7 separate regions of the Homo sapiens genome follow, and all the other regions are reported to be linked to region 2. Evidence: microRNA targets listed by miRTarBase, many of them from high-throughput screens and not tested one by one. Region 2 holds a microRNA gene; each other region holds the end of a gene's coding sequence. Distances are from middle to middle.
What was found. Region 2 holds the annotated microRNA hsa-miR-4689 (UUGAGGAGACAUGGUGGGGGCC, at 1,463-1,484, shown strand). A microRNA usually pairs through its seed, bases 2 to 8, with sites in the 3' UTR of a target mRNA and lowers its output. Matches are read on the target gene's strand: a 7mer-m8 pairs with bases 2 to 8, a 7mer-A1 pairs with bases 2 to 7 and ends in A, and an 8mer does both.

Region 1 (4,000 bases), not on the chromosome of region 2:
GGCCATGGGTAGGGAACTTGGGATTTAGTGTATTTTATGAAATATCCATTTGCAAAGTTGTCAAGGACTTTGCTGACTATAAGGATTCGGGGAGCCCAGACTCTGTGTACTCTTGCTTGAAGCCAGTTATTTGACATTTGGATCACTGCCAAGGGTCACCTGTTGTCCCTGCATGCATCCTTGCTTCCTTCCCTTCTAATTCAATATAACAGCCAGAGTGATCCTTCCTAAAGGGTGTTAAATCTCATCACCACAAACTCCCCAGCTTCAGTGGCTTCCCATCATGTTTTAAGAAACGCCCCCAAATCCTTACCATGGCCGACCGACAAGAGCCCTCACGATGGCCTCTTTGACTGCATCTCTCATCCTTGTTCCCCTTGCTCACTGTGACTTAGCTGCCGTGGACTCTTGCTGGAACTTGCGTGTATCAGGCAGTCTCCTGTCTCAGGGTCTTCCATTTGCTGTTTCTGAAAAAGCGATTTTAAATTAAAGAGTCTTGGCCAGGCACGGTAACTCATGCCTATAATACCAGCACTTTGGGAGGCCGAACACTTTGGGAGGATCGCTTGAGCCCAGGAGTTTGAAACCAGCCTGGCAACATGAAGAAACCCTGTCTCTACAAAAAATACAAAAATTAGCTGGGCATGGTGGCACGTGCCTGCAGTCCCAGCTACTCAAGGGAGTGGGGATGCTGAGGTTGGAGGATTGCTTGAGCCCGGGAGGTTGAGGCTGCAGTGAGCTGAGATGGCGCCACTGCACTCCAGCCTTGATGACAGAGTGAGAACCTGTCTAAAAAAAAAAAAAAAAAAAAAAAAAAAAAAAAAAAAAAAAAAATCTTTACCCTGCAGTCAATTTTAAAGAAAGTCCTTTCCTTTTAGGGGAAAGGACATAGGATCTGAAAGAATTACCTATAGGCAGAAAATGTAATGCTGTCTCATTAACCAAAAGAAAAACACACAGATTACTATTTTCCTATCTCAAGTTGCAAAACTCACGAATAAAGATGAAATGAAATGAGGAAGACCACGCAGATTGGTTTTTTTGTTTGTTTGCTTGAGGTGGAGTTTCTCTCGTTGCCCAGGCTGGAATGCAATGGCGTGATCTTGGCTCACCGCAACCTCTGCCTTCTGGGTTCAAGTGATTCTCCGGCCTCAGCCTCCCGAGTAGCTGGGATTACAGGCACCCGCCATCATGCACAGCTAATTTTTGTATTTTTAGTAGAGACGGGGTTTCACCATATTGGCCAGGCTGGTCTTGAACTCCTGACCTCAGGCAATCCGCCCGCCTCGGCCTCCCAAAATGCTGGGATTACAAGCATGAGCCACCGCACCCGGCCAGACCATGAAGGTTTTTATATTTTGGAGAGTAAGGAAATTTCCATTTTAATTACTTTTATTTGTCTGAACATTTAGTTTGCCAAATTCCAATATAAATAAAAACTACACACATACACACAAACCCCCAAAGCAAAACATAAACACCGACTTGAACTAATCAAATTTGGTTTTTATGTGCTGTGCTCTTTCGTAACCACTGAATAGTTTTTCAGATTATTCCAAGTCATATGAAACCACACTTTGTGAAACTTCAAGTTTTAGATGACCTTGCAAGTTAAGGACTAAACATGTTGCATCACAAAAAGCAGCCCTGGGAAGACACGGAGAGCAAGTATATCAAAATAGATTTTACACTTGATGGCATTGAGCCGACTCTTCCAAATTATTTGAAAATACGAACATATTTTACTTTTATGCATGTTTTGGAGAATTCTGTCAGGCAGGTAAAGTGTACACACAGTTAGGCCTTCAGAGCTCCAACAAAGGAAGAGAGTTAGGAGAAAAGAACTGGTGAGAAAGTGAAATGGTAGGTTTGTAGAGACCGCCAAAGTAAACTTTTTAAAACTATAAAACGGTGAACATTCCATGAGTTTTTTAAGGAAAAAAAATCAGCCATAATCACATAGAAGGCGTGTTGTAGTCAAACAATTATATAAACTGGTTAAACACTGTTTGCAAAGGCCTCAAAGAGGTAATTTTATCTTCAATTCATTTATTAGATAAACGTCTGTTACTACATTCAAAGGCTAAAGTGATGGGCTTCCTCTGACAGACTAATGACCATTAATGTCCATCTCAAGGACACTTGTCCTTGAGAACATGAAGACTCCTGACATCAGAAACTAAACATCCTAGAGTTTACATACCCCCGAAAAACCTGTTCACAGGGGGAAAAAACAAAAACAAAAACAAAAACAAAAAACAACTACGAAACTCCTTCAACTAAGCAAGAGGGCTCCAAACAAAATTCTAACTGCGGGATGAGTTCCAGGGTGACTTTTGTGGTTGAAGGGAGACCTATAAATGAGAAAAGAGAGGGGAAAAGAATGAAGATCTAGTCACCCAATGTTGGAGTTTAAACACATTCTTCATTTTGTCCCCGACCTCCAGGAATACATTTCTCAGAAGTCGATATTGAGCCAGTCTCAGTGAGTCAGGAGGGAGAAAATCTGGGATCTGTCAGAATTGGTACTATTTATGGTTGTGTCACTTGGACATGTCACCACACCTCTGTGGACCTGTTTCCTCATTCGTGAAGTGCCTGGAATAACATTCTTGTCTTAGAGCTGTAAAAAGGATCAAATGAGAGCCTATTTCTGAGTAGTTCTCAACTCTGACTGCATCTTAAAATAACTTGAGGAATGAAAAAAGAAATGTTGATGCCTGGGTCCCATCTCATAGGTTCCAACTGAATTGTTCTAGGGTGGGGTCTCAGCACCAGTGGGTTTTCAAAGCTTCCCAGATGATTTTAATATGCAGCCACTGCTGAGAGCCACAGGCCTATTGCTAAAGTAGCACTTCTCAAACTATCCTATCCTGGAAGATTACCTGGGGATCCTGTCAAAATGCAGATTCGGATTCAATGGTGTGAGGCCTGGGAATGCATTTCCCACAGTCTCCCAGTTTATGCTGGGCTGTTCTCACCCACACTCTGTCTACAGTAAGGTACTAAATGGCCACAAGGCACAATATAAATAGTCATCCACTCCCTCTCCCCAAACTGTAACTTTTAGGGATGGTGGTGGCAGCTTCAGCTAACGACTTTCTTTCCTCCTTTTTCTGTTTTAGAGAGTAGTGTGTATAAGATTTTTAAAAGCACAAAAGGGTTGTACAAATAAAAGGTATCACTCCGGTTATCTGTTAAGAGAACACTGATTTACAGTTACCAGCACACCCACTTGCTATGGTACCACTGCTCCCCACATTCGTTACAAATTACGTAAGTCATCATTTGTTCATCTGGGTTTGAATTCCGCACCCAGCTGGGAAGGAAAAGTGTTCCTCTGTCAATTACAGTGACTTTGCAATTGTATTTCTCACAGCGTCTGCATTTTATTTTATTTGTCTGTGTGCCATCAATTACTTGGGGAAGGTAATGTTCCTGGATACAAGATTCCGTGTAGGAGGCTCTCAACTGCTTCAGTTCCTTATTTGCCATCTCCATGACAGTCATTTCAGCAAATTCTCGTGGAGACGTGGTCCCAGAGAGCAAGTTTTGTTGTAAATGAGAATTTCTGGGGTTCTTCAAATTGGCAACTTTGCTTCTGATGCAAGTTTTATATTTTTTGATGTTCTTTGAATAAAGGGTAAAAACATGCTCTTCAATTTCTCTTGCAAAGTTTTGCCACAAATCAGCTTTGGGTTGATCTGTGGAAGAACTAGTTAAAGCTGCGTAAAGAAGCTCTATGCATTTAGTTCTCATGGGTGTTGTGGGATCCAGCAACTCACTCGATCTCTTGCCAGTGGATTCAGGGTCACCATCCCCAAAATGCTCTTCCTTAGGTTTCAATTGAATGGCTCTATTTTCAGGCACAATCATTTCACTGAGTTTTGCAACGTCTTGGGAAGACAGAGAATTCGAGCTGCAGATGCCCAGTGTCTCATTCTGACTTGGGTCATGAGAAGGTCCTGAATTTTCTTCTTTATTACCCCTCACAGGAAAT
Region 2 (4,094 bases):
GTGCTGTGTCTCTCCCGGATGGAAGCTCCAGAGAGCGTCTGTCTTATCTCTGTGGGGGTCCCCGTGCACGGTGCACAGGAGACTCAGGGAATACTTGGAGGAAGGGCCAGTGGCTGTTCCCGTGAGTGGCCGCAGCGTCTCCCTGTCCCCTCCCTCCACAGGCCTTTGAGATCATGTTGGCTGCGGGCGAAGGGAAGGGTGTCAACAAGAGGATCACCTACACCAACCCCTACCCCTCCCGGAGGACATTCCACCTGCACAGCGACCACCCGGAGCTGCTGCGGTTCAGAGAGGACTCCTTCCAGGTGTGGTGGGGCTGTGCCTGGGACTCCTAGGGGAAGACCCGGGGACCTGAATGGAGGGCAGTTAGCCTGCATTTAGGAGCGAGTTCCTCAAATCACCAGCAGTCTTCCAAAAGCCCCAGGGCGGTGACAGGTACCATCCCATAGTTGGGTGGGCCCGTTGTATCTTTAGTAGCTGGAGATTTAGCAAAGTTTCTCCTGAGTGTGGGAAAGGGTGTTGTGCCCAGGGCTTTTCATGGTAATGTTAGACAGCTCAGTCTCGGAAATAAGTGTGCCTTCGAGTCCAAGTAACGCGTCACACTGGCTGAGCACTGGTTCCCATCCTTGTACCGGGCGCTGAAGTCAAAGGCAGGCCTTGGATGCACCCGCAGGGCTCCCCTGCCTTGTCAGCTCCCCTTGGAAATAAACACGACCATGCAGAGAGGTTGCTGGTGAGAGCGTGGGACAGCCCGGGGGTGGATGCTGGGATTTGGATGCTTATTTCCAGGTCGGGGGTGGAGAGACCTACACCATCGGCTTGCAGTTTGCGCCTAGTCAGAGAGTGGGTGAGGAGGAGATCCTGATCTACATCAATGACCATGAGGACAAAAACGAAGAGGCATTTTGCGTGAAGGTCATCTACCAGTGAGGGCTTGAGGGTGACGTCCTTCCTGCGGCACCCAGCTGGGGCCTGTCTGTGCCCCTCCTGCCCTGCAGGCTGTCCTCCCCGCCTCTCTGCAGCCTTTCACTTCAGTGCCCACCTGGCTGACCTGTGCACTTGGCTGAGGAAGCAGAGACCGAGCGCTGGTCATTTTGTAGTACCTGCATCCAGCTTAGCTGCTGCTGACACCCAGCAGGCCTGGGTTCCGTGAGCGCGAACTCCGTGGTGGTGGGTCTGGCTCTGGTGCTGCCATCTACGCATGTGGGACCCTCGTTATCGCTGTTGCTCAAAATGTATTTTATGAATCATCCTAAATGAGAAAATTATGTTTTTCTTACTGGATTTTGTACAAACATAATCTATTATTTGCTATGCAATATTTTATGCTGGTATTATATCTGTTTTTTAAATTGTTGAACAAAATACTAAACTTTTACACGTCTTCCCTTGGCAGTTTTCTTGAGTGTCTGCTGGCGCAGTGTCAGAGGCTTCCTGTCTACAGCACAAGCCCGGTTTCTCCTTGAGGAGACATGGTGGGGGCCGGTCAGGCAGCCCATGCCATGTGTCCTCATGGAGAGGCCGCTCAAGCCTGCCCTGGGTGGGGGCTGAGACCCCGGCTCTGAGACGGCAGCAGTCGGGTAGAAGTGCGAGGGGCGGAGGGTCCTGTGCCCCTGAGCGGAGGGTGGGCTGCACCCAGCGGTGGTTGCAGAGAGCACGTGGCCCCATTGGTCCTTGCAGTGAGGTGCGGTCCTCGTTTGCAGAGATCAGTCTCGGTGGGTGGTCTCTGCTGCGTCTGCATGCTCTGATCCTGACGCAGTCCCCATCCTTCAGAGAGAAATTTCACTGGCACTGTAGTTGGACCCTGAAGGTCAGAGCTGTGGCTTTTTCCTGCGTCTGTGCCAGGGGCAGAGAGAGAGTGGAGATGCCTCCTCGGGCAGTGTGTTTGTATCCTGGTGCTGCTTCTCACGAGACAGTCTGCCCTCCCTTCCCACGGACTCTCCAGCTGGACAGGACTGGCTGACACAGTTTTCTTTTGAGGGAGCTGGATTTTCTCACAGGCCCCAAGGCTGAGTCCTAGGCAAGGGAACAATTGTAAGATGTCCAGTCCTTCAGTCCTCATGGAAGAGGCTCCGGGGAGTCCAGGAAGCCACATGTGGGTTCCATCCAGCCCTGCCCTGTGGGGTGGAGAGTCCTCGTGGGCCCTGCAGGCTGGGTGGGCCTACAGACTGCAAGAAAGTGCCTGGCCTGTGCTTGCAGGATGTCCATGCAGAAGCGGAAACCACAGCAGCAAAGGAGATCCATCCATGGGCTAGAAAACCTCCTGTGGACGTGTCCCTTCAGCGTTTGTAAAGCTGCACTCTCCCTGCTTTAGAGTGTCTGCCTTCTAGGGGCTGCTGGAGACATCCATTGGAGGCCATGGCGGTCGTTGGTTTACTCCCTCACTCCTTCATCTGGTACCACATGCCTGCTGTGGTCTCCACCCTCTCAGAGGCTCAGGAACATAGGGAAGGCCCATGGTACCTGGGACACTCAGCTGTTGCCAGCCCGGAGTGGGAAGGAAGAGGTGCAGCCTCCCACAGGAGGATGGAGGTTGGCGGGGGCTTCCCACGAGTCGATCTGAGTGGGTGAATAGGGGAGGGGAGACCTGGGCAGAGGGCCATGGGAGCTGAGGCCCGGGGCCAGCGGCATGGTGTGCCCAGAGTCCTAAGGAAGGCCACCAGGCTGAGAAGCCATCCCTGATGCAAAACAAGGTCCTTTCAGGCCATGAGGAGGACTTTTATCTGTATCAAAAAGCGTCAGGAAGCCTTTGAAAGGTTTTATGCAAGGATGGGTGTATTTGGGTAAGATGGGGGCAGTAATGTGGAGAATTAATTGGAGTGGGCCCAGATGTAGGCAAATGAGAGGCTGCTGCAGTAGTTGGGAGGGAGATGATGGGAGAATGGACAGAAGAGGCTATATTTTGTTCAGCTGTGAGTGATTGAAAATCCAAAATAACACTGTCTTAAACAAGATGGCCATTAATTTCTCTCACATTTAAAAATCCAGGTAGCTGGTGTAGGGCTGGCGTGGAGCTCCACCATCACTGTGCTCCCGTCTTTTTCTGTCTTACCATTGTGCTGTTCTTACCACGTTGCTTCCACCTTGTATCCTGAGATGGCTGCTGCAGCCGCTGCCATCACCGCTCCATTCCAGTCAGCTGGAAGCTGGGGTGAGGCACATAGCTCCTTCTGAAAAGTTACTGTCCGGAAGCTGGACCCGTTTCTCTGCTTGCATCCTTGTGTTCGTTTCCTATGGTTGCCTAGGTTGGCCTCTGTCCACGCCAGAGCTGGCTTGGAAAGACTGAAGGAGTGAGGTGGAGGCTGGACTCCAGGGGGGAAGGAGTCACTTAAGGTGTTTCTGTGTCTTTTCAACATGTACCTGTGCGGAGTAATGATATCTCTCTGGCTTGTCCCTGTTGTCATCTGGGTTGGGATTCTCCATGTTGCTTTTTCTTGAAGGCGGCCTCTGAATTTGCACGCCTGCCTCAGGGCAAACGCTGAACAGCCAGGGATCCCAGCTTGTCCACACCCTATGCTGGCTCAAACGTGTGCAGTCATGATACGGAGCCGTCTCTTCGAGTCGGATGTCCAGGCCTCTGGTCACAGCGTCACCTGGCCAGAGCCTCCGAGTAACCCAGGTGCCTGGTCACTTCCCTGGCAGCTCTGTGTGGAGAAGGTGCAGCTGTGATTTACTGGGTCTTGTCACTGCAGGCACCACCTGGGCAGCCCACCCATCCCTGTCCACTCCGTCTGGCTCTCGCCCTGCTCCTGCTGTTCCCCGTCGTACCACGCGAGGGCAAGGCCTGCCCCGTTAGCCTGCTGCTTCCGCAGCGCCGCTGCACTCTCATTAAGGGTCTGGGGAATGAGCCACTGTGATGGGTGCTGAGTCGTGCGGGCAGGAGGCTCAGACTTTCTCCTAATAGGTGCCTTTAAAGTAATGTTGATGGATGTGATTATGAAGCTATTATGTCCCATTTGTTCCTACAGTCTTGCTGGGGAGGGTGACCGGGACCATTTTATCCTTCCCTTGCAGAAAGTCTCGGTCAGATGCATTGTACTGCAGGGGAGGCAGGGTCTCAACTGCTCAGACATGAGGCCCAAGCCTGAGATGAG
Region 3 (4,094 bases), not on the chromosome of region 2:
TCCCTTTATTGCTATATGTAAATTAAAGCCAGGATTAAATCTACTAGTCCTACATTGTAGCCTCCTCACGGTGTGCTGTGTTTGTTTTGTTTTTAAGAGTTCTGGGGAAATCCCCTGGAAAGACTCAATTAAAGAGCAGTGAAGAGAGTGCAGATCCCGTCACTGGAAGTTCAGAAAATGCAGTGTCATCTTCAGAACTGATGTCCCAGACTCCCAGTGAAGTTCTGGGTACCAACGAGAATGAGAAACTGAGCCCTACAAGTAATACCTCATATAGTTTAGAAAAAATCTCCAGTCTGGCCCCTCCTAGCATGGAGTACTGCGTTTTACTCTTCTGCTGTTGTATTTGTGGTTTTGAATCAACCAGCAAAGAAAACCTCTTGGATCATATGAAAGAGCACGAGGGTGAAATTGTAAACATCATCCTGAATAAGGACCACAATACAGCTCTAAACACAAATTAGGTGGAATAATGACTCGAGCAGGAAAGCAGTAGAAGAGGATTCCTTCACCACAGTTTCACCTTTACGCTGTCAGACAACTTCCTGCCACAGAAGAAGTCGTTGATGTGATTTTTGAGGAAATGACAGATGTGACTTTGGAACCAAACTTGTAATAAAAGGAATTCCAAATGGACAAGCAGTAATGATATTTAAATATTTTGAGTGAGGGGGAGTGGGTCAAAGAGGAAGTAGAGGTGTAATCCTGTATTAACCCTCTGTCACCCCTTCTTAGTGTCGAGTGTATTTATTAATAAAAGCTTATTAGAGTGTAGAAATGCCAGCAAGAGTTAAGAAAGGGCTTTTCAGGAACTATTCTAAAAGTCATAAAAGGGTCACAGTCTTAAGCAGAGCTTAGTTTTCTTCTCACTTGTCAAATGCAGACTGTGAGGCCTCCAGTGAGAAATGGGAGGCAGTTCTGGGAGGGGGTTTTTTCAGTGTCACCAACAGAGTCAACAAGGAAACATAATTAGAGGGCTTTGAAATGATCTACTGAAATACCTAAATTGATAGAAATTAATCATACTCAATCTAGGACATGTTCCTTTACTCCTTAAAAAAGAAAGGAAAGATCTCTAAATTCAAAGCTAGATTGTAAATAGGCATTCAAGAAGTATTGTCTTAAATTTACGATGAATTTCTTGTGAGCAGAGGACGAAACAGGTGAATTCTCACCAGACTCAAACCAGATCTCAATTCGTAGTAATGCTAAATCGTCTTCCGTGTTCTCAGAGGTTCTTTTCAGTGTCTGTCAGAACTTGGCATACTTTCTCCATAGTACGTAGACCTTCTAATACTCTGCTAAATGAAACCACACTTGTTATCTGAAAGTGTGTGAAAGAAACAATGTATGAAAATTTACATTTGATCATCCGGCATTGGAAATAGTTTGAACTATTTCCAAAAATCCCTTAGGGGATGAGGGGTGAAATTTAAAAGCTCCTGAAAATGAGTACTGCTGTGTTGAGCTTTTCTTTCCTGGGGTATATTAATTTAGTTATATTTAGCAGAAGAGGAATATAACCAAATGTGACTAAAATATAGCAGAAATTCAGGTTGTTTGTAAAAATTTTAATAACAAATAGCATTTGGCAAGTCTATAGGATTCTTCCTATCTGGAAATTCTATTTTGTTAGAGTGCGATAGGACATATGGAAAACCAACACAAAGTGCTTTAGCATTAAAACTCACCATCAAATAGATGTAATCTTATTAATTACACATTTTGTATTTTAATTATTTCAAGGAGTGAAGAAAACAGGGTGTTTTTGTTTTTGTAGTTCTGATTACTCATTTATGCATTGTTTTGTTTAAGTAAATTCTGCCTACAAGTGAAAAGGTCGGTGCGCTCTTCTGTGCACCATCCTCACGGTGCTATTTCCGAATATCTGAATATTGATTTCTAACACCTGGATGAGGCTGTGACCGATCAACTTGGAACACTGTAAAGGTTTTCGAATGGGATACGCTGTAGGCACGTTTTAAGAAGTATTCTGTTCCTAAAGTCCAGGTATGATTGGATTAATATTTATAAAATTATTATTAGGAATTATTTAAGTGGGGCCAGGCATCTTGCAACATTTTCTGATTTTTTTTTCTTTCTTTCTAATCTCATTTTGGTGATATTTAAACAAACATAAATGATTGTAACTTTGCAGCTTTTTTATTTAGGTAGCTTTAATTTATTTATGAAAGTTAATCCATTTCTGATACGTGGTTTTTAAAAATATGAAATGGATTTATATATACTATATTCCTCAAATCCACTGTATGTGGACTTATATTCATTTTCTCCTTTTTTCGGAATTGAAACATTTTAATTTCAAATTCAAATAGAACATTTAAAATGATTTCATTATTATTACCCATACTGTTGCCACTCATATTGTAAGTCAGTTTTTTCATTGCTGGTACAATGACTCAGTATTTCTTTATAAAAATCTGTTGTTCTGAAAATCAACAACCTTAGAAGGATTTTGTCTTAGAAAATTTCCTTGGCTTTAGTTTTATATCATATTTAGAAAATAATAATGAAAAGCATCCCCAAAATTTCAATGATGTGAATTTTTAAATTACCTTTATTTCTTTAAACTAATTCCATTGATTGTTACTTAAATTTTCCACCTGGAATCATGGATTTAAAATTTCCCCACCTCATGGGGAAAAAACTAACCCAGAAGTTCAAAGCCTTTAAAGTTTCATCTGATTCTGGCCTTAGAATTGTCCTTAAAAGCTTTCTCCTGGCCGATAGGAGGAAGCATATATCAAGGAGGTTCTTTCCCTTCCCATTATCATTTTGTGGCAAGCCTTAAGTTAACAATGTGTCTACCAAGAACAATTGAGTTTTCTAAAAGTAATAATGAAGATTATGCAATTCTAACTGTAGAAGAGATAGCTATTAAAATAATCAGTAGCCTGGGCATAGTGGCTCACACCTGTAATCCCAATACTTTAGAAGGCCAAGGCTGGAGGACTGCTTGAGTCCAGAAGTTTAAGACCAGCCTGGGCAACACGGGGAGACCCTGTCTCTACAAGAAATTAAAAATTAGCCAGGCATAGTTGGCACGTGCCTGTAGCACCAGCTACTTGGGAGGTTAAGGTGGGAGGATCACTTGAGCCTGGGAGATAGAGGCTTGCAGTGAGCCGTGATGGCACCATTGCACTCCAACCGGGGTGACAGATGAGGTCCTCTGTTTACCTCCCCCCCCAAAAAAAAAATTCAGTAGGAATTCCTTCATAGAATAACATGTTATTTATTGGTATTGACTTCTTATTAGACAGAGCTCATAGTATTTGTTTTCTGCTCCGAACACTTAAAAAATACTAAGACGTGATAGTGAAAATAGCTTTGAAAAGAAACTACATATGGCAAAGGTGGGGAGGGGGGAAGATGATGCATTCTGATCATTATAAAGAATACTTTTCAGGGCTCTATCATTTTCTCCCTTTCTCTAATCATCCAGAATATGGCGGGTGTCCCAGTGTTCAACAGTATCATGCTAATATTCCATTTGATCGGTAGTCCAAGTTCTTTGGCCAGATAGTGCAATGTTGTGACACCGACCGAAGCCTTTGTTCTGGATCTTTCTTCCTATTGAAGGTGGCTGCTGGTGGCTTCATAATTTTCTGTTTTTTTTCTCACAAAGTAAATGGTGGGCATCCATGTTTACATTGCACCTTCCCGTGCTGTAATTGGCTTGACAAAGACAAGCAGGCTTCTCTGTTGAGACTTATTGTGTTTTTAGTTTTCATAGACACTTATTTAATCTTTTTAAATTGTACAGCAAGGTGCTCTAAGTAATATTCGATAAAATATATTTAATAGAAATTTGCGTTTGATATTCATGAACATGAATACATGTATTTTTTTAAGAAATAAGTATTGTGTAACACTATGGCATTGCTTCTATAGCCAAAGTATAAAAATTTCTGGAATACTGACATGTAAAGACTACAGTTAATTCTGACACTGTATCTTATTAAAATAGGATGATTTGCATTTTGTAAAATTATCCTGCACATCAAGCTGCATGCCTTAAAGCGGAAACTCTAGGACTGTGTTCATGGGAGAGCAGTTCATCTGTTCAGAACAGT
Region 4 (4,094 bases), not on the chromosome of region 2:
TGTCTACCTATGAAACCAACCTTCACATGTACCCTCAAACCAAAAATAAAAGTTGGAGAAAACAACAGCTTTCACTCTTATTGGACACCTTCTTACTTTCAATGATGTCTTTTGATGAAGTGCTTAAAGTTTTAATGTAGCATAATTTATTTTTTTCCTTTATATTTAGTGCTTTTTGTGTCCCATTAAAGAAATATATGCTTACCCTAAGGTCATGAAGATATTCTCCTATATAAACTAATGTCTTTATTGTTTTGCTTTTCACAATTATTTTTCAATCTCTAATTGTTTGTGGTGTGAGATAAGACTTTTTGTTCCATATAGATATCCAATTAATCTACCATCTTTTTTTTTTTTTTTTTGAGACGGAGTCTTGCTCAGTCGCCCAGGCTGGAGTGCAGTGGCACGATCTCTGCTCACTGCAAGCTCCACCTCCCAGGTTCATGCCATTCTCCTGCCTCAGCCTCTCGAGTAGCTGGGACTACAGGCGTTCGCCACCACACCCGGTTAGTTTTTTGTATTTTTAGTACAGACGGGGTTTCACCGTGTTACCCAGGATGGTCTCGATCTCCTGACCTCGTGATCCACCTGTCCTGGCCTCCCAAAGTGCTGGGATTACAGGCATGAGCCACCACACCCGGCCTAATCCACCATCTTTTATTGAACAGACTGTCTTCTTTACTGAGCAGACAGCAGTATCACCTTCTTCAGAAATCAGTTTCTTTCTGAACTTTTGACCAATATATTGTCTTTCTTACTCAGCTTTCTAATAAATCATGATTATCTGATACTGAAGACCAGACACTCAATTCTTCCATGATGGCTTAGCTATTCTTTGATTTTACATTTCCATATAAACTCTACAATCAGTTTAATTTCCAAAAAATAAGCCTGGGTGAGATTTTCACTGTCAATATAATTTAAGAGAACTGATATCTTTTAATCAATATTGTCTGCCAGTAATGAATATGGTATATCCTTCCTATTTTGGTCTTCACTTTGTTATATATCTGATATTTTCAATGGTATTACAAATGGTAATACATAAATTTCATATTTGTTTGCATATAAAAAGTGAAAGAGTTTTATTGTTTTTTGTTGACTTTTAAAGTTCATCTTTCAGAATAGTATATAAAATGTCCTACTCCCAAAAAGTTTATTCTCCTGTTTCTCACATCATACTCTCATAAAGTCCACGACTAACTTCATTTTGCCACCTGCTTTTTTTTGTTTTTCCTCTATGTACCTTGCCCATCTTGATAAATAATACAACTAAACTCTTAAATCAAAATCCTGGGAGCTATCTTTAACTTTTTCTGACATCCAATCAATAATCAACTCCTGTTCATCCTAACTCATAAATCCTTTCCAAATCCATGCTTCCTTATTACCATTACCACTGTTCTTATTCGGGCCTAATCATTTTTTTTCTGGACTTTATAAAAGGCTTGTTTTCCCCTTGTCTCTAGTTGTTCCTTCTACTCATCTATTTTTCACAGATATTTTCCTAAAGTATACACCTGATCATGTCATTCCTCCTCTCAAATGTTAACTGAACCTACGGGATACAAAATATCAAAATTTCTTGGCATTGCACACACATAACTGTTTATGATAAGGGGCTTAGCTTGTTATGCATTCTCCACCCAAAATGAAAACAATGTACTTTAAAAATATCAAATAACTTACACTTTCCCATGTGTCAAGTGCCTTCTCCCATCTCCATTTTAAAAAATGTAATGCTCCCTCTAATTGAATGCATTCTCCTATCACTATTACTCCTAACACCATGACCACCACCACCACAATGTAAGCTATTAGAAGCATTAAAAAAAAAAAGATAGTAGTAGGCTTAATCAAAGACTTGTTAAGAAAATGAGTATTCAATAAATCCAAACTCATTTGTATTTCTGTATTTGATTTTATTTGGTATATGCCACTATGACCTTATTTTAGTAGAAATCCATTACAGGATTTTTAAATTATCATTAGTCAACTCCACAAAGACAATAATACTGCTGTGGAAGACCGAAGGGGAAAAAAACTGATATATTTATTTACAATTCCCTATATTGTAAACATTTAATCTATATATTGTTACTAACTTATAATGAGACAAGGAAATGATGCCCTGTATTTCTATTCATATTCAGCAATAGCATATTATAATAGAACATCAGATTTTCTTTTCCATTAGCATTATGCTTTCTTTAAATAATTATCTAAACTTTCAAAAGAACTAAATATGTAAGTGCTATACAACTAAATCTACTTAAGCCAAATATTTGGCTTATAATTTCATTTTTAGAATAACTTAAAGTGCTATAAGCAACCTGGCAATCAACACTTTCTGTAAGAACAAAACTACACCTTTAAACATTAATTTACAAGATATACAATGTTTATCTGGAATAGCTGAAATTTCAGCACAAAGTCACTGTCACATGTATAACAGCAGGATTCTTTTTTGCATAACATGAAGCTTTAAAATCAACTGATGAATTATTGCCACAATGGCTATTATTGGTTTCCTACAAAAGAGGATAAGAACTACTAGTGTATTCTATCTTTTCATTTTTTTTTTGAGGTCACTTGACAGTAAGTTTGCATATTCAACAAGTCTACTGAGTTACAATATTGTCTACTATAATCATTGCCCTTTATAAGAGCAAATGCTAATGGTAATTAATAACATATACCACTCAAAGAAAATCACAATTTTTTTTTTCCTTTTGAACAAGAGTAACCTATATTTTGGGAGTTGGTGTGCAATAAGGCTAAAACAACCAAATTATAAAACAGTATACCTGACACAGTATGTTGAGGAAATATGCATCTGTTTCATAGTTTTTGTACTTATGTTAATGCCTTACTAAGCTACACATATGTAAATAGTATGTTTTCTTGCTAATATATTAAATCCAATAGAATCATTAAGTTCTCATTCTCCTTTGTGACTTGTAACTTTATCAGATAATTTAATGATGAAAGCATATGCCCAAACCTGCAGATCATATGTACTGTCATCTATTACAACCAGAATTCTCCTCACATTTCATTTTTCTTAAAAGGAAATTGAGAATACCTGCAACATCGTTAAAGAGAATGTTGTAGTGTGAATAAAAACTAGAACTCAGTGGTCTATGAAGTATGTATTATTTTGGCAAGTGATTTTTTCCTTCCTAAGAATAAGATGAACATGTCCAAATGTTACCTGTGCCAACTTCACAGATACAGAAGTATCCAGTCTTCATTTCCTCAATGCCCCAATTAGACTGTTCTAGTAAACGAATCAATATAGTTAAAAAAAAAAAAATCAATACAGGTTCAACAAAAGAGCACCATCCTATTAGGGAACTGAGTAACATGTGAAAATGAAGTTGTCATTATAATCAAAATGTTGCCCAAATTCTAACAAACCCAAGCTGTTATACTAGTACATGGACGCAGTCCCTAGTGTTAACCTAAAGAACTCTGGGACAAGAACATGATTTGAAAAATAAACTCCAAAATTATAACTGTAATAAATGGTGATACAGACTAATTTTAAAGCACAAGTGACATGTTACACTGTATTGCTTCTTGAACTTTCCAAACAATGCTTGTCCATGTCAGGTTTGGGCCATTCTCCTGCTAAGACAGAGAGCATTTTATTTATTCAAAAGCCCAGATTTCAATATCTTGGATAAAGAAATCTTCCTTCTTAGAAAGTGTACGATTCCCAAACGTTTTACAAGAATGGCTTCTTCCATGGTAGAGATCTCCATCAAGCCAAAGCGCAAATTCTCCTCTGCAATACATAAATAATAATCTGTTAATATTTATGCCTTAAGTTATAAAACAATTTAAATGAGACTTTGAATACCTAACAACCCTAAAGTTATTAATTTTCTCAAATCCTTCCCTACTCCTTTCCACACTGACACAATTTTGTTTTACTCCTATTCCATTAAAAAATTATTTATGGGCCGGGTGTGGTGGCTCATGCCTGTAATCCCAGCACTTTGGGAGGCCGAGGCCAGCGGATCACCTGAGGTCGGGAGTTCAAGACCAGCCTGACCAACATGGAGAAACCCTGTCTCTACTAAAAAATA
Region 5 (4,000 bases), not on the chromosome of region 2:
ACAACCTCCTATGCAGTGGAGACCTATTGTTAGCAGCCCCATGTAATAGGTGAGGAGGCTGAGGGTCAGAGAGGGAGAGACACTCACCTGTGGTCACACAGCCCAAGGGGAGGAGCGGGCTCCAGGGCTGGGCTAGAGGCAGGGGTAGGGGAACCTAGAGGGGCCCAGCTTGGGCCATGCCGTGCCGAGCAGCTTCCCTGTCACCCGCAGGTTCTAGAGGACCGGATGCAGCTGGAGTGCAAGTGCCACGGCGTGTCTGGCTCCTGCACCACCAAAACCTGCTGGACCACGCTGCCCAAGTTCCGAGAGGTGGGCCACCTGCTGAAGGAGAAGTACAACGCGGCCGTGCAGGTGGAGGTGGTGCGGGCCAGCCGTCTGCGGCAGCCCACCTTCCTGCGCATCAAACAGCTGCGCAGCTATCAGAAGCCCATGGAGACAGACCTGGTGTACATTGAGAAGTCGCCCAACTACTGCGAGGAGGACGCGGCCACGGGCAGCGTGGGCACGCAGGGCCGTCTCTGCAACCGCACGTCGCCCGGCGCGGACGGCTGTGACACCATGTGCTGCGGCCGAGGCTACAACACCCACCAGTACACCAAGGTGTGGCAGTGCAACTGCAAATTCCACTGGTGCTGCTTCGTCAAGTGCAACACCTGCAGCGAGCGCACCGAGGTCTTCACCTGCAAGTGAGGCCAGGCCCGGAGGCGGCCGCGGGCACCCTGGAACCCGGCGGCATTTTGCACATCCACTCCTCACCTTCCCTGCCTTGGTGCTGCCAGCAGCAGACATAGACGGGTGCAGAAGCGGGGAGCTCCAGGTGCAGGAGGGCACCGGCCGGGGCCCACGCCCTCTGCCCGCCTCCCTGGGGCTCCTTCCTGCCACCTCCTCCCATCACCTCCTGCGGCAGAACAGCACCCGTGACCCACCCAGAGAGCAAGGCCAGGGGTCTTGGTGCTCCCCGACGGGGCCCGGCAAGTTCTCTTTCTTCTCTCTGGGAAAATGAACGTCCAGGACACACCTGTATCCCAGAGAGCAAAGTGATGAGGAGACTGAGCGTCCCCAGCCCCACCTGGCGGCATGGACACAGAAAAGCTACGCCGGCTGGCCTCTCCAGACCAGTTCCCAGGCTGGGTCTGCCGCTGGGCCCTGGGGCGGTGGGGACAGATGTTGACACAAATTATTTATGTTTTCTTAGTATCAGAAGAGGATTCTCGGCACTAACACATAGCCAGTCCTAACTCCGTACTCTGTGTCAGCCCATCCCCTAGACACCCTCTGTTTCCTTTCCCGGCCCCACCTGGCCGGCCCTCTGCCCCTGCAGAGCTGAGGCAGCCTGGGGTTGATGGGGACCACGCGGTGCCTGCAGGTCCTAGAAGTGAGCTGGGCAGGGGCTCTTCAGACCACACAGCCCTGACCGGGCCTTGGAGGAGAGCCATGGACAGGCTCCTCCATGCCGTCTTTCCTTCTTTTGAAAATCCTATCAATGGCTGGGCGCGGTGGCTCACACCTGTAATCCCAGCACTTTGGGAGACCGAGGCAGGTGGATCACCTGAGGTCAGGAGTTCGAGACCAGCCTGGCCAACGTGGTGAAACCCTGTCTCTACTAAAAATACAAAAATTAGCTGGGCGTGGTGGCGTGCACCTGTAATCCCAGCTACTCAGGAGGCTGAGACAGGACACTTGCTTGAACCCGGGAGGTGGAGGTTGCAATGAGCCAAGATTGTGCCACTGTATTCCAACTTGGGTGACAGAGCACGACTCTGTCTCAAAAAAAGAAAAGAAAATAATATCAAGCAAATCAAAATATCACCCACGTCAGGTTCCAGGAGTCCTTCGTTCCCTCCCTCATCCTGTCACCCTCCCGGCCTGGCACCTCCAGTTTACAGAGACCCCCTTCCCCCTGGAGCCAGCCTGACCCCTGGGACAGTGCTGCCGCGGGGGTCAGGCAGGTGGTGAGTGGTCAGGGATGTTTGTCCCACTTGACAGATGGGAACTCTGAGGCCCAGAGTGGCACAAGGACCTACCAGAGACCCTGCAGCTGTGACTGGAGGCTTCCACCTTTCTCCTGCCCAGCCTGGGGCTCTGGACCTGGGAGAACACATCAGGATGCCCGGGGTGGCAGTAGGTAGCTCCCATGCCTTGAGGCACTTGGCTGCTCCCTCCACCCCCTGACAGCCTCATTGGGGCCTGCACTCCCCTCGGTGCCTTTGAGGCTTCGCCTAGCCCTGTCCTGGTCCTTTTACCCTGACCCCAGTGCTGAGAAAATCTGGATCCAGAGCTGGACATGTCCTTTCTGGATGCTCCCACCCCTGTCTCTGAGGAGCATGAGTGACAGAGGGAGGAACTTGTCCGAGGCCAGAGAGGATGGTCTGCAGCTGGCTCCTGGTGCACCCCCACTGCCCACGGCCTGGCCCCCATTTAGGGTGTGTTCTCTTGGAAGCCCGTAGGAATGTGTTCTTGAGCAGCCGACAAGCCAAGGGCCTGGGCTCAGCCTGGGGCAAGTGGGTCCCTCCTGGGCTCTGGCCCTGTGGTCCAGCCCATGTGCCTCTAACCATGCCTGGACGCTCTGAGTCTCCGGGCCACCGTGAATGCCCCACCCTCAGCCTGGCCCCATCCCCTTACCTTCCCCAAGTCCCAGAACACACCTGAGTCCATAGGCCCGGCAGCCTCTGCAAGGAACCTGGTTAACTTATGTTGTTATATAGCGTCGAAATGTCTATAGTGTCTTTAAATTATTGTGACCTACACTGGGTACCGGAGAGGGGGATGGCTGCGGCCCCCATCCCTCATCCCCCATCCCATCCCATCCCTCATCTCATCCCTCATCCCATCCCCCATCCCATCCCTGACCCCATCCCCCATCCCATCCCTCATCCCTATTCCCCATACCCACCCCCCATCCCATCCCCCATCTCCCGAACCAGGCTCCTCCTGCTTCAACAGACCCTTGGGGCCCCTGATGCCACCGAGACACTCGCACTGTCCCTTGGCTGCCGGGCACCCCACTGAGCCCCTGCCCACCCCAAAGTCTGCCAGCAACAGGCCCTTTGCCTGGGTGAGACGGGGGTCAGGGTGGCCCAGATGGGGGTGATGGCGACCAAGGTGCTGCGTCCCCACCCTTCTGACGGCAGCCTCCCCTGGAGGGGAGTGCTCGGCCCAATAAAAGCTGGAATCGGAAAAGTGAGTGTGTGTGGAATCCCCATGCGATGTACCTGCAGCTGCGGCCCCACCGGTGGGGACACATGCTCTGCCCACCCAGGACGAGCCCCCGAGGCCTTCATGTGCCCCCAGCTGTCTGGCTTCCTCCTGCCCCTCTGTGGGCCGTCCCTCCCATCCTCACACCAGACACCCTTGCCCAGAGCCCACCCCTGAGATCAAGTCATGCCTACCTGCCTCCAGGCACCTTTGGGCTGTCCCCACCCAGCCAGGGGAGCTGGGGCACTGGACACAGACCCTGAGGCCTTGCTGGACAGCACCAGGCTCAGGCTGCGGGGACAGGAGGGCCATGGGCCTGGCACCTGGTTACTGGGGGCTGGGCCAGAGCTGCTGTAAGAAGAAGGGACAGCAGGCCCCACTGGGCCCTGTGCCTCTGCTTCCCTCTGACCAGGGTGGGGTCTGGCTTTCAGGGTCCCTGTAGGTCCATCCAGCTGGGTCTGGTGGATTTTGGCTCCACAGCCCTGGGGACTGCCTTGCTCTCACCAGGCCTGGGAAGGTGGCATGAGGCCCCCAGAAGCTCAACAGCCTGCAGCTGGCCACAGGCTCCGCTGCTCCTCCCCAGAGCCTGGCCATGGCAGGGCCTCCCAGCCTGCATCCTGCGAGAGCCGTGCACACGGCGATGCACAGCACTTCCCCGAGGGCCAGAGGCATGTGGCAGGGCCGGTTTGGCCACTGCCCGCTGTCCCAGCAGCCTGGCATCGGGTGGAACTGCTGATCAAACAGACCCCATCCTTGCTGTGCCCAGCCCGGGCACCCACGGAACTGGCCCCAGACCCAGATCCCA
Region 6 (4,094 bases), 100 Mb from region 2:
ACTGGCCTCTTACTATGTACTATGAACTCTTCCAAGCACTCTACATGTGTTAACTCACTTAATCCTCATAAAAGCTCAATTAGGTGGATGCTTTTATCATCATCCTCATTTTGTGGGCAGAGAAACTTAAGGCTCAGAAAGATTAAGTCATTCAGTCTGGTTCTAGGGTTTGTGTCCTTTTTTTTTTTTTTTTGAGACAAGGTCTGGCTCTATTACCCAGGCTGGAGTGCAGTGGTGCGATCTTGGCTCACTGCAGCCTCTACTTCCTGGGTTTGAGCCATCCTCCCACCTCAGCCTCCCTAGTAGCTGGGACTACAGGCATGCACCACCACAGCTGGCTTTTTTGTATTTTTTGTAGATATGGGTTTCACCATGTTGGCCAGGCTGGTCTCTTAACTCCTGGCCTCAAGTGATCCACATGCCTTGGCCTCCCAAAGTATTGGGATTACAGGCGTGAACCACTGCCCAGCTAGGGTTTGTGTTCTTAATCATCACCCTATATTGTCCCCAGGTTAACTCCCTTTCTAGTTTTTTTGTTTGTTTTGAGATGGAGCCTCGCTCTGTCACCCAGGCTGGAGTGCAGTGGCACGATCTCAGCTCACTGCAATCTCCACCTCCCAGGTTCAAGTGATTCTCCTGTCTCAGCCCCTGGAGTAGCTGCGATTACAGGCATGTACCACCGCACCCAGCTAATTTTTTTGTATTTTTAGTAGAGACAGAGTTTCACCATGTTGCCCAGGCTAGTCTCAAACTCCTGATCTCAGGTGATCTGTCCACCTCGGCCTCCCAAAGTGCTGGGATTACAGGCATGAGCCACCGCACCCAGCTGCCTTTCTAGTTTATTGAATGGAACTTCGACAAACACAAAACTTGGAACTAGGCCGGATGCGGTAGCTCATATCTGTGACCCCAGTTTGGGAGGCCAAGGCGGGAGGATCACTTGAGCCTAGGAATTCAAGACCAGCCTGATCAACATAGTGAGACCCCGCCTCTATTAAATTTAAAAAGCATATATACTTTTAAATATATATCATATATATACACAAAAACAAAACTTAGGCTGAGAAGTAATGTTGCAAAGCACACACTTGGCTTCAGTATGAGTAGCTGCTTCATTTTCCAATGGGAAAAAAAAAACAAAAAACAACCCTGAGCAGTATAGTTAGGAGGCACTGAGTCACTGACCACCATTCAATTCCAACCAGCCTCTCAATGCAGCCCTCCCTGCTTCTTGAATTCTGCCCCAGAAAACTCATCCCTGTCTAGGACTCAGCCCTGAGGGGCTGGGCTGGAAGGCTGCCTGCCCCGTGCAGCCTCTCCCACCGTAGAAGTCCTTTCCGTCCTGGTGAAAAGGACACCTTCCTGCCCGCCCACCATGTCTTCCTTGGAAATGCCAGGAAATGGGCTCTGTGCTGATCCAGCTATTTGGGAGCAGTGTCATGGACATGGGCAGAGGGACAGGCTTATCAGCCAGTGGTGTCTGAGTCTCCCGACCTCCCGGTGGGGCCTTCTGGGCCCTGCCGGCTCTTCTGTTTTCCAGAGACCAGACCTTCCTCCCTGTGGGAGGACAGGGTACCACACAGAAGCGGACAGTGACAGTGCTGTACCCGCACAGAACTAGTTTATTCAGTAGTATGGGGCATGAAAAAACAACAACAACAAAACGCTACCCTATTTACAGCAACAACCAAACTGTACAATCTGATGGTTAGTACCAAGTTAGCATCCAGCATCTTTGTATTTTTTTTAAATCAAGTCATCAGTAGTAAAAACCAGTTAAATTTTTAACCCTTTGCAGGAATTGCTGAGGGGAGAAGACGGGGGAGAATCCACGGCAGAAAAGCCAGAGGCTGGCCTCACAAATGAGAAACAGGAGCCTTTCTTTCCTGCCCACAGCCTCTTTTTCTAGCCACCTGCTCCAGAAGGAAAGTCAGTGACAAGTCTGGAATACATGCTTGGAGTAAATGGTGACTCAGATGAAAAGCAGTCGGCAAAACTGAGGAGAGGGGAGGAGAGGTGGGGAGATGATGGCCTGGGGCAAGGGGAAGGGCGTCAAGCCCCCAAGCCAGGGCTGCTGGGAACACCCAGCCTGTGATGGCCATATCAGACCCCCGGGACTGGACACGAACCCATCCCAACACAAAAAGCAAATAAATAAAACAAATATATTAACTCTCTCTTCACAGGGAGCTGGGGTGGAGTCGGGGAGAAAGAGGAACAGGACCTGGTCCTTTGAAGAAGAGAGCCAATTCCAAGAAGGGGTTAAAAATAGAACATGTCTCAGAGGCCACAGCAGGTTAGACAAAGTAGCATTTGTCTGATTTTGGGGGGTGGGGTGGGTGAGTGGACACCAGAACCCAGACTTGAAACCTGTGCTTGATTGAGCACCCTCAGGGCAGCCGAGCCAGCACTGTGTTTACTCTTCCTCCCCCACCCACATCACAGCAAAGAAGCGCAACTTAACACATGACTGGCCTGCCCGGGGCGCGGGGCGGGCACGAAAAATGAAGCACTTTTGGGTCAGCAACTGAGCAAACACCTGGGCTGCCGCGCACGGCCAGAGTCCAGGAAAAGGAGAGGGGCTGGGGCTGCCCGACCCCCGCCTGGGGGCACAGGCTCCCCTGAAAATGTGTTCATGCAGCATTTGGGGGTCCAGGGGCGCTGAGTCCTTCTGCCCCCTCACCGGACAGGGCTTTTCCAGTTCCTGGGAGAGGCAGTGCGGGCAGGACGAGGCACACCCTTTGCCCTGGCCCCTCACCGTTCTGAGGCCTGCCCGGGTGCAGCCTGAAGGGTGTGAAGCCCTGGCTGCGTGTGGCTTTGTCCTTTCCTTTTGGTGATGGCGTATGAGGGGCAGGCCCCCCAGGAGTCCCTCTCCTCCCAGAGGCACAGCAGATGGGAAACTGAGGAGAGGCTGGGAAGCATCCTGGGAGGTCCTATCCTCTTTGGGAAGGGAAAGGGGAGTCAATTTCCAGCGTATAAAAAAAATGAATCCCTGAAGTCATGAAGAGTGGAGATCCTTTTTTAAATTCTTTTTTTCCTCTTTTCTGAAAAACTTTGTCTTGGAGATGTTGGCCCCAGGGGTCCAAAGTGCAGTGAGGGGAATGGTGGGGGGGGAGTTGGCACTAGATGGCCTTAGGTGGGGTGAGTACCCCTCCCGGCAAGGCCCAGGCTCCTCAGATGGACGTTTCGTCGCTGCTGCGGGCAGGCGATGGGGAGCGGGGCAGGATAAAGCACAAGACAGGAGCAGGGCATGAGTGCGGCTGGGGAAGGGAAGGGAGCCTCGGGCGTAGGAACCACGGCCCAGGGTTAATGCAGGAAGTTAAAGAAGAGAAATCTGGAGAGGCAGGAAAGGAAAGTGGCAGAAAAGGCAGACAGAGGGTTAGTTGAAACAGAGGAGAGAGTGAAAGCTTTCACCAGACGAAGGAAACAGGAAAGCACCCCCAGCTCCCCATCCTCCCGCACTCTGCCCTAGGCTGGGCTGCGCCGCGTAGAGCCTAGGAGGGGTGGCCCTCCCCGCAAGGCACCATGGTTTGTGGGCACGGCATAGTAAGGGAGCTGGGCCAGTTCTGCCCATTTGTCCTCCAAATGCCATCCAGAGTCACCTGGGGAGGCCCGGAGGCAGCTCTGGGCCCAGGTGAGGCCTCCGAGGGGCTGCACCCCGTCCCGCCCACCCGGCCACACTCACTCGGAGCCTGACGAGTCCTCATCCACCGTGCCTGCCTTGATGCTCATGGCGATGGGCATGACCCCGTTCAGCTGCTCCTGGAGGCTCTGCCGGGGCGGTGGGCGGGGAGGGGGGCCTCCCCGGCTGCCCTCACTAGCGGAGGAGCCCCGGGAAGACCCTGTGCATTGCTCCAGGGGGAGCCGCAGGAGGCTGCTCTTCTCGCTGATGGTGGGCAGACACTTCTTCTTAAGGATGCCTGTGGGCCGGGGCGGGGCTGTGAGGTGCGGCCACAGGAGAATGTGAGGTATGAGGCTGCTGACTAGGGGAGCTCGGCAGCTGGGGGTGCCCCACTCACCTTTGTGAGGCTGGGCAGAAGAGCCTGGAAGGGGGCCTAGGGACCCCTCTCGAGACAGGGCATCTCCATTCTCCC
Region 7 (4,091 bases), not on the chromosome of region 2:
AGCATCATGTTGTCCCAAGAGTTATTGTTTAGAAAACGAAGAGGCAGTAAGAAAAATTGCCAGCCAAGTGTCTGATGAGATCCTTGAAAGCTTGCCTCCAGAAGTCCTAAGCATCGAAGGAGCAGCCATTTGCTATTACAAAGATGATGTCTTCATTATAGGAGGCTGGAAAAACAGTGATGATATTGATAAACAGTATCGGAAAGAAGCCTACCGATATTGTGCGGAGAGGAAGAGGTGGATGCTTCTTCCTCCTATGCCACAACCTCGTTGTAGAGCCACTGCTTGTCACGTGAGGATCCCATACCGGTACTTGCATGGCACACAGAGATACCCTATGCCTCAAAACCTGATGTGGCAGAAGGACCGCATCAGACAGATGCAAGAGATACATCGTCACGCCCTGAACATGAGGCGAGTGCCAAGCTCTCAGATTGAATGCTAGGTTCTCTCAAGCGTGCCGATTAAAACTGTTACACCCGTTTCGTGAAGCTGAAGATACCCAGGCTGTTATTTAAAAAAGTATGTCGATAACTTATTTTCTACATGAACTGATTATTACCCCATATAAAGGAAATAGAGTTAAAAACTAAAGAATGGGAGACTCAGTTCAATACATGGTCATTTTGTTAGCTTGCAATTTTTGTCTTTGGTTTGTTTGTTTGTGCTAGCTAAATAAGATCTTATTAAGGACAAGTGGAAAAATCAGGTGTAGTTGCTTAGCTGTTTTCCTGCCAACGAGTTATGACTCCTTTGTCTTGAGGACTTACGTTTTGAACATGCTTTAAGCACCAATTTTATTTGCACATTTACTTTGATATTCTTTTTCATTTTTTATTAAATGATTGGTTTTGGCAAGATCTGACTTCTGCATTGAGCCCTCATCTGCAGGAGGCATGTGCAATAGTGAGACTGAAATTTGAATGAAAACACTCAATATTTCAGCAAGATAATTTGAGAATGTTTGCATTGATATTTTCTTATGTTTATCTAGAAATGCCAGTTTCCTTCCTAGAAGATGTGACTGATGAGAAATTTTTTACTGGCTCATGCATTTTTTGAATATTTTTCATTAGCAGCTGTTTATAGACTTTAAGCCTTCAATCTGAGGTGACGGTAGTTGGCAAAAGTATAGATCTTTAGCTAATTGACTAAATACAGAGCAAGTTACATGTGTGAACTTTGTTTCTCTAAGAAGAAAAGTATTAGTGTAGACTGGGAAATCAAAGGCATTTAAAATTTTTTCAACATTTTTTTCAGGAGTTGCAGGATTATTTGAGGATATGTTAATGAGTGTAAATAATGCCTATGACAATCGACACTCAATGCCTTCCATTTTAATTTTTGCTCTAATGCATATTATATAGAATCTTCATTATTCCTTTTCTCTTTTTTTTTTTTTTTTTGCTCATGTTGCCCAGGCTGGAGTGCAGTGGTGCAATCTCGGCTCACTGCAACCTCTGCCTGCCAGGTTCGAGTGATTCTCTTGCCTCAGCATCCCGAGTAGCTGGGATTACAGGTACCCACCATCACGCCTGGCTAATTTTTGTGCTTTTAGTAGAGACAGGGTTTCACCATGTTGACCAGGCTGGTCTTGAACTCCTGACCTCAGGTGATACGCCCGCCTCAGCCTCCCAAAGTGCTGGGATTACAGGCATGAGCCACCGTGCCCAGTCCATTATTCTTTTCTACAAGAAACTGTTTTTTTCCAAAATGGGAAGGAAGTCACAATTTAGAGAAATGTTGCTAAAGAGAAGCCTTATTATTTCTGATTGTTATATTTTATCCAGTTGCCCCACACTTTCAAACTTTGCCTGAGCCTAGGATACCAAATTTGGGTACATAATTTTGGCTTTTAAAGGTTTATGGGCTGGGCACGGTGGCTCATGACTGTAATCCCAACACTTTGGAGGAGGCTGAGGTGGGCAGATTTTGAGCCCAAGAGTTCAAGACCAGCCTGGGAAACATAGCAAGATCCTGTCTCTACAAAAAGTAGAAAAATTAGCTGAGTGTGGTAGCTGGCACGTGCCTGTAGTCCTTCCTACTTGAAGCCAAGGTGGGAGGATCACCAGAGCCTGGGAAGGTTGAGGCTGAAATGAGCTGTGATCATGCCACTCTACCTTGGGTGACAGAGAGACGGTGTCTCAAATAAAAATTAAAAAGATCACTGAAGCTATCTTTTATTTAGTTTTATACGTTATTCGAATTATCTTATGTCTCCTGAGCTTTATAAAAGTTAGCACTCAAATTGACTTTTTTTTTTTTTTGGGCCAGGGGATGGGGTCCCACTTTGTCACCCAGGTTGGAGTACAGTGGTATGATCTCGGCTCACTACAACCTCCACCTCCTGGATGCAAGCCATCCTGCCACCTCAGCATACGGAGTAGCTGGGACTATGGGCACGCGCCACCACGCCCAGCTAATTTTTTTTTTGTATTTTTGGTAGAGATGGGGTTTCTCCATGTTGCCGAGGCTGGTCTCCAACTCCTGGGCTCAGGAGATCCACCCGTATCAGCCTCCCAGGGTGCTAGGATTAGGTGTGAGCCACCACGCCCGGCCTCAAAATAACTTTTTTTTTTTTTTTTGAAACAGTCACGCTTTGTCGCCCTGGCTGGAGTGCAGTTGCGCAGTCTCAGCTCACTGCAACCTCCACCTCCCGGGTTCATGTGATTCTCCTGCCTCAGCCTGCTGAGTAGCTGGGATTGCAGGTGTGTACCACCACGCCCGGCTAATTTTTGTATTTTTAATAGAGATGGGGTTTCACCATGTTGGTTAGGCTGGTCTCGAACTCCTGACCTCGTGATCCGCCCACCTCAGCCTCTCAAAGCGCTGGGATTACAGGCATGAGCCACCATGCCCAGCCCTCAAATTTACTCTTAATGCTCAGTTAATATAAAGGATTCCTAACAGTTTACAATGTGGTTTTCTTGTTTTTGTTGTTGTTTTGGTTTTTTAAGATGTGAGGTCTCACCTTATTGGCCAGGCTGGTCTCAAGCTCCTTTCCTCAAGCAATCCTCCCACCTTGGCCTCCCAAAGAGCCACCTGTCCAATGATTTATCCTGTTTCTTAAGAACTGTCTTTACCTTCTTAGACATTTTGTCATACCATTCTAGAAGTCAAATTCCAAGTGCAGTGATTTTTTTTTTCCCTAGTCCATTATAGTTAATCTTCTTGTTAGTGATCAAATACCAAAAGAGAAAAGCACAACCAGAAATTTTGGCTATTTGCTGCAAGTTGTAGGTCTTGGGCTCTATACTAAGAACTTGAAATTTTTAAATTAGTATCCCTGCCTAGGTGAAAAGTTTTTAATAAATGTGTTGAAAATCAACTTTAAATCCATTTAATTTAGACTGGAGTGGGCGTGAGAAACTGCAAGTCTATTTCTACATATAAGGATATATTATTATATTGTCCCATCCCACCACTACCTTTTTCTCAATTTCTATTTCTTTGTAGTTATTTTAGTAAAAGCCATTTGGATTCTGAGAAGCACTAATTCTTAGCTGTGATAGGTCTATGCAAGTAAGACAGAATCATTAAATGAAGCTCACTAAATGAAGTTCTCATTTCTCTCCAACAGACTGTGCTAGCAAACTTCGTTTTCTTGATTGTATTTAAATAATTTAGTATCTCACTACGATAATAGTTTTTAACTGGAAGGGTGTGATGTGTTTTTTGTTTTTTGTTCTCAGAGTTGTCTTCTGAGATAATTATTACCAAGTCATTTGTGGGGTTGTGTTTTTTTCACATCATGTGACAGAAATTATAACTCATAAGATTTAGGCATAATCTGGTTTTAAAACCTTGATTGAAACTGTTGTTTTTTAACTTAGCAGGCAGCCTAGGCCATGGCTGAAAAGAAGGGGTAAGTCCTTCATTGCATGATGATGTGTGCAGGTTTTCCTGATTTTCTAATTTTTATTTTTGAATTCACATGTGTAATTTCACATCAATAACTTGTGTTTCTGAAATATCCTAACTAACTTGTTAATAAGGAAAGAAACCAGATTTGCTTAAATCTGTTCAAGGCTGACATTCTGAAATTCTAAACTGGAAATAACTTCCCAGAGTATTTGGAAAGGTTCTAAGTA

Region 1: the mRNA of TCEANC is a reported target of hsa-miR-4689. Seed matches in the 3' UTR shown: 7mer-A1 at 2,692-2,698.
Region 3: miRTarBase lists ZNF507 as a target of hsa-miR-4689. Seed matches in the 3' UTR shown: 7mer-A1 at 2,255-2,261.
Region 4: the mRNA of OXR1 is a reported target of hsa-miR-4689. Seed matches in the 3' UTR shown: 7mer-A1 at 2,821-2,827.
Region 5: the mRNA of WNT7B is a reported target of hsa-miR-4689. Seed matches in the 3' UTR shown: 7mer-m8 at 749-755.
Region 6: miRTarBase lists CELSR2 as a target of hsa-miR-4689. Seed matches in the 3' UTR shown: 7mer-m8 at 2,902-2,908 and 7mer-m8 at 1,998-2,004.
Region 7: the mRNA of KLHL11 is a reported target of hsa-miR-4689. Seed matches in the 3' UTR shown: 7mer-A1 at 3,002-3,008.

What each region holds. Positions count from the first base shown.
Region 1 is chrX:13,662,784-13,666,783 of GRCh38, reverse strand. TCEANC (transcription elongation factor A N-terminal and central domain containing) reads right to left here. Exons shown (of 5, transcript NM_001297563.2): 5 at 1,375-4,000. The coding sequence ends at 3,220. It overlaps LOC107985656 (a long non-coding RNA gene), which reads right to left and starts at 709. Exons shown (of 3, transcript XR_002958816.2): 1 at 314-709.
Region 2 is chr1:5,860,101-5,864,194 of GRCh38, reverse strand. MIR4689 (microRNA 4689) reads left to right here and starts at 1,454; the gene lies at 1,454-1,523. It overlaps NPHP4 (nephrocystin 4), which reads left to right. Exons shown (of 30, transcript NM_015102.5): 29 at 162-305; 30 at 790-1,384. The coding sequence ends at 930.
Region 3 is chr19:32,382,620-32,386,713 of GRCh38, forward strand. ZNF507 (zinc finger protein 507) reads left to right here. Exons shown (of 7, transcript NM_001136156.2): 7 at 98-4,094. The coding sequence ends at 464. Among named protein-coding and RNA genes, the nearest start is that of DPY19L3-DT, 21 kb to the right of the region's middle.
Region 4 is chr8:106,750,502-106,754,595 of GRCh38, reverse strand. It overlaps OXR1 (oxidation resistance 1), which reads right to left. Exons shown (of 17, transcript NM_001198533.2): 17 at 1,902-3,790. The coding sequence ends at 3,655. Among named protein-coding and RNA genes, the nearest start is that of ABRA, 18 kb to the left of the region's middle.
Region 5 is chr22:45,919,546-45,923,545 of GRCh38, reverse strand. WNT7B (Wnt family member 7B) reads left to right here. Exons shown (of 4, transcript NM_058238.3): 4 at 211-3,180. The coding sequence ends at 690. Among named protein-coding and RNA genes, the nearest start is that of WNT7B, 56 kb to the left of the region's middle.
Region 6 is chr1:109,273,262-109,277,355 of GRCh38, reverse strand. CELSR2 (cadherin EGF LAG seven-pass G-type receptor 2) reads right to left here. Exons shown (of 34, transcript NM_001408.3): 32 at 4,020-4,094; 33 at 3,686-3,920; 34 at 1,605-3,334. The coding sequence ends at 3,307. Among named protein-coding and RNA genes, the nearest start is that of PSRC1, 7.8 kb to the left of the region's middle. RefSeq lists cis regulatory regions at 2,388, 2,373-2,392 and an enhancer at 1,073-3,104.
Region 7 is chr17:41,850,094-41,854,184 of GRCh38, reverse strand. KLHL11 (kelch like family member 11) reads left to right here. Exons shown (of 2, transcript NM_018143.3): 2 at 1-4,091. The coding sequence ends at 445. Among named protein-coding and RNA genes, the nearest start is that of KLHL11, 13 kb to the left of the region's middle.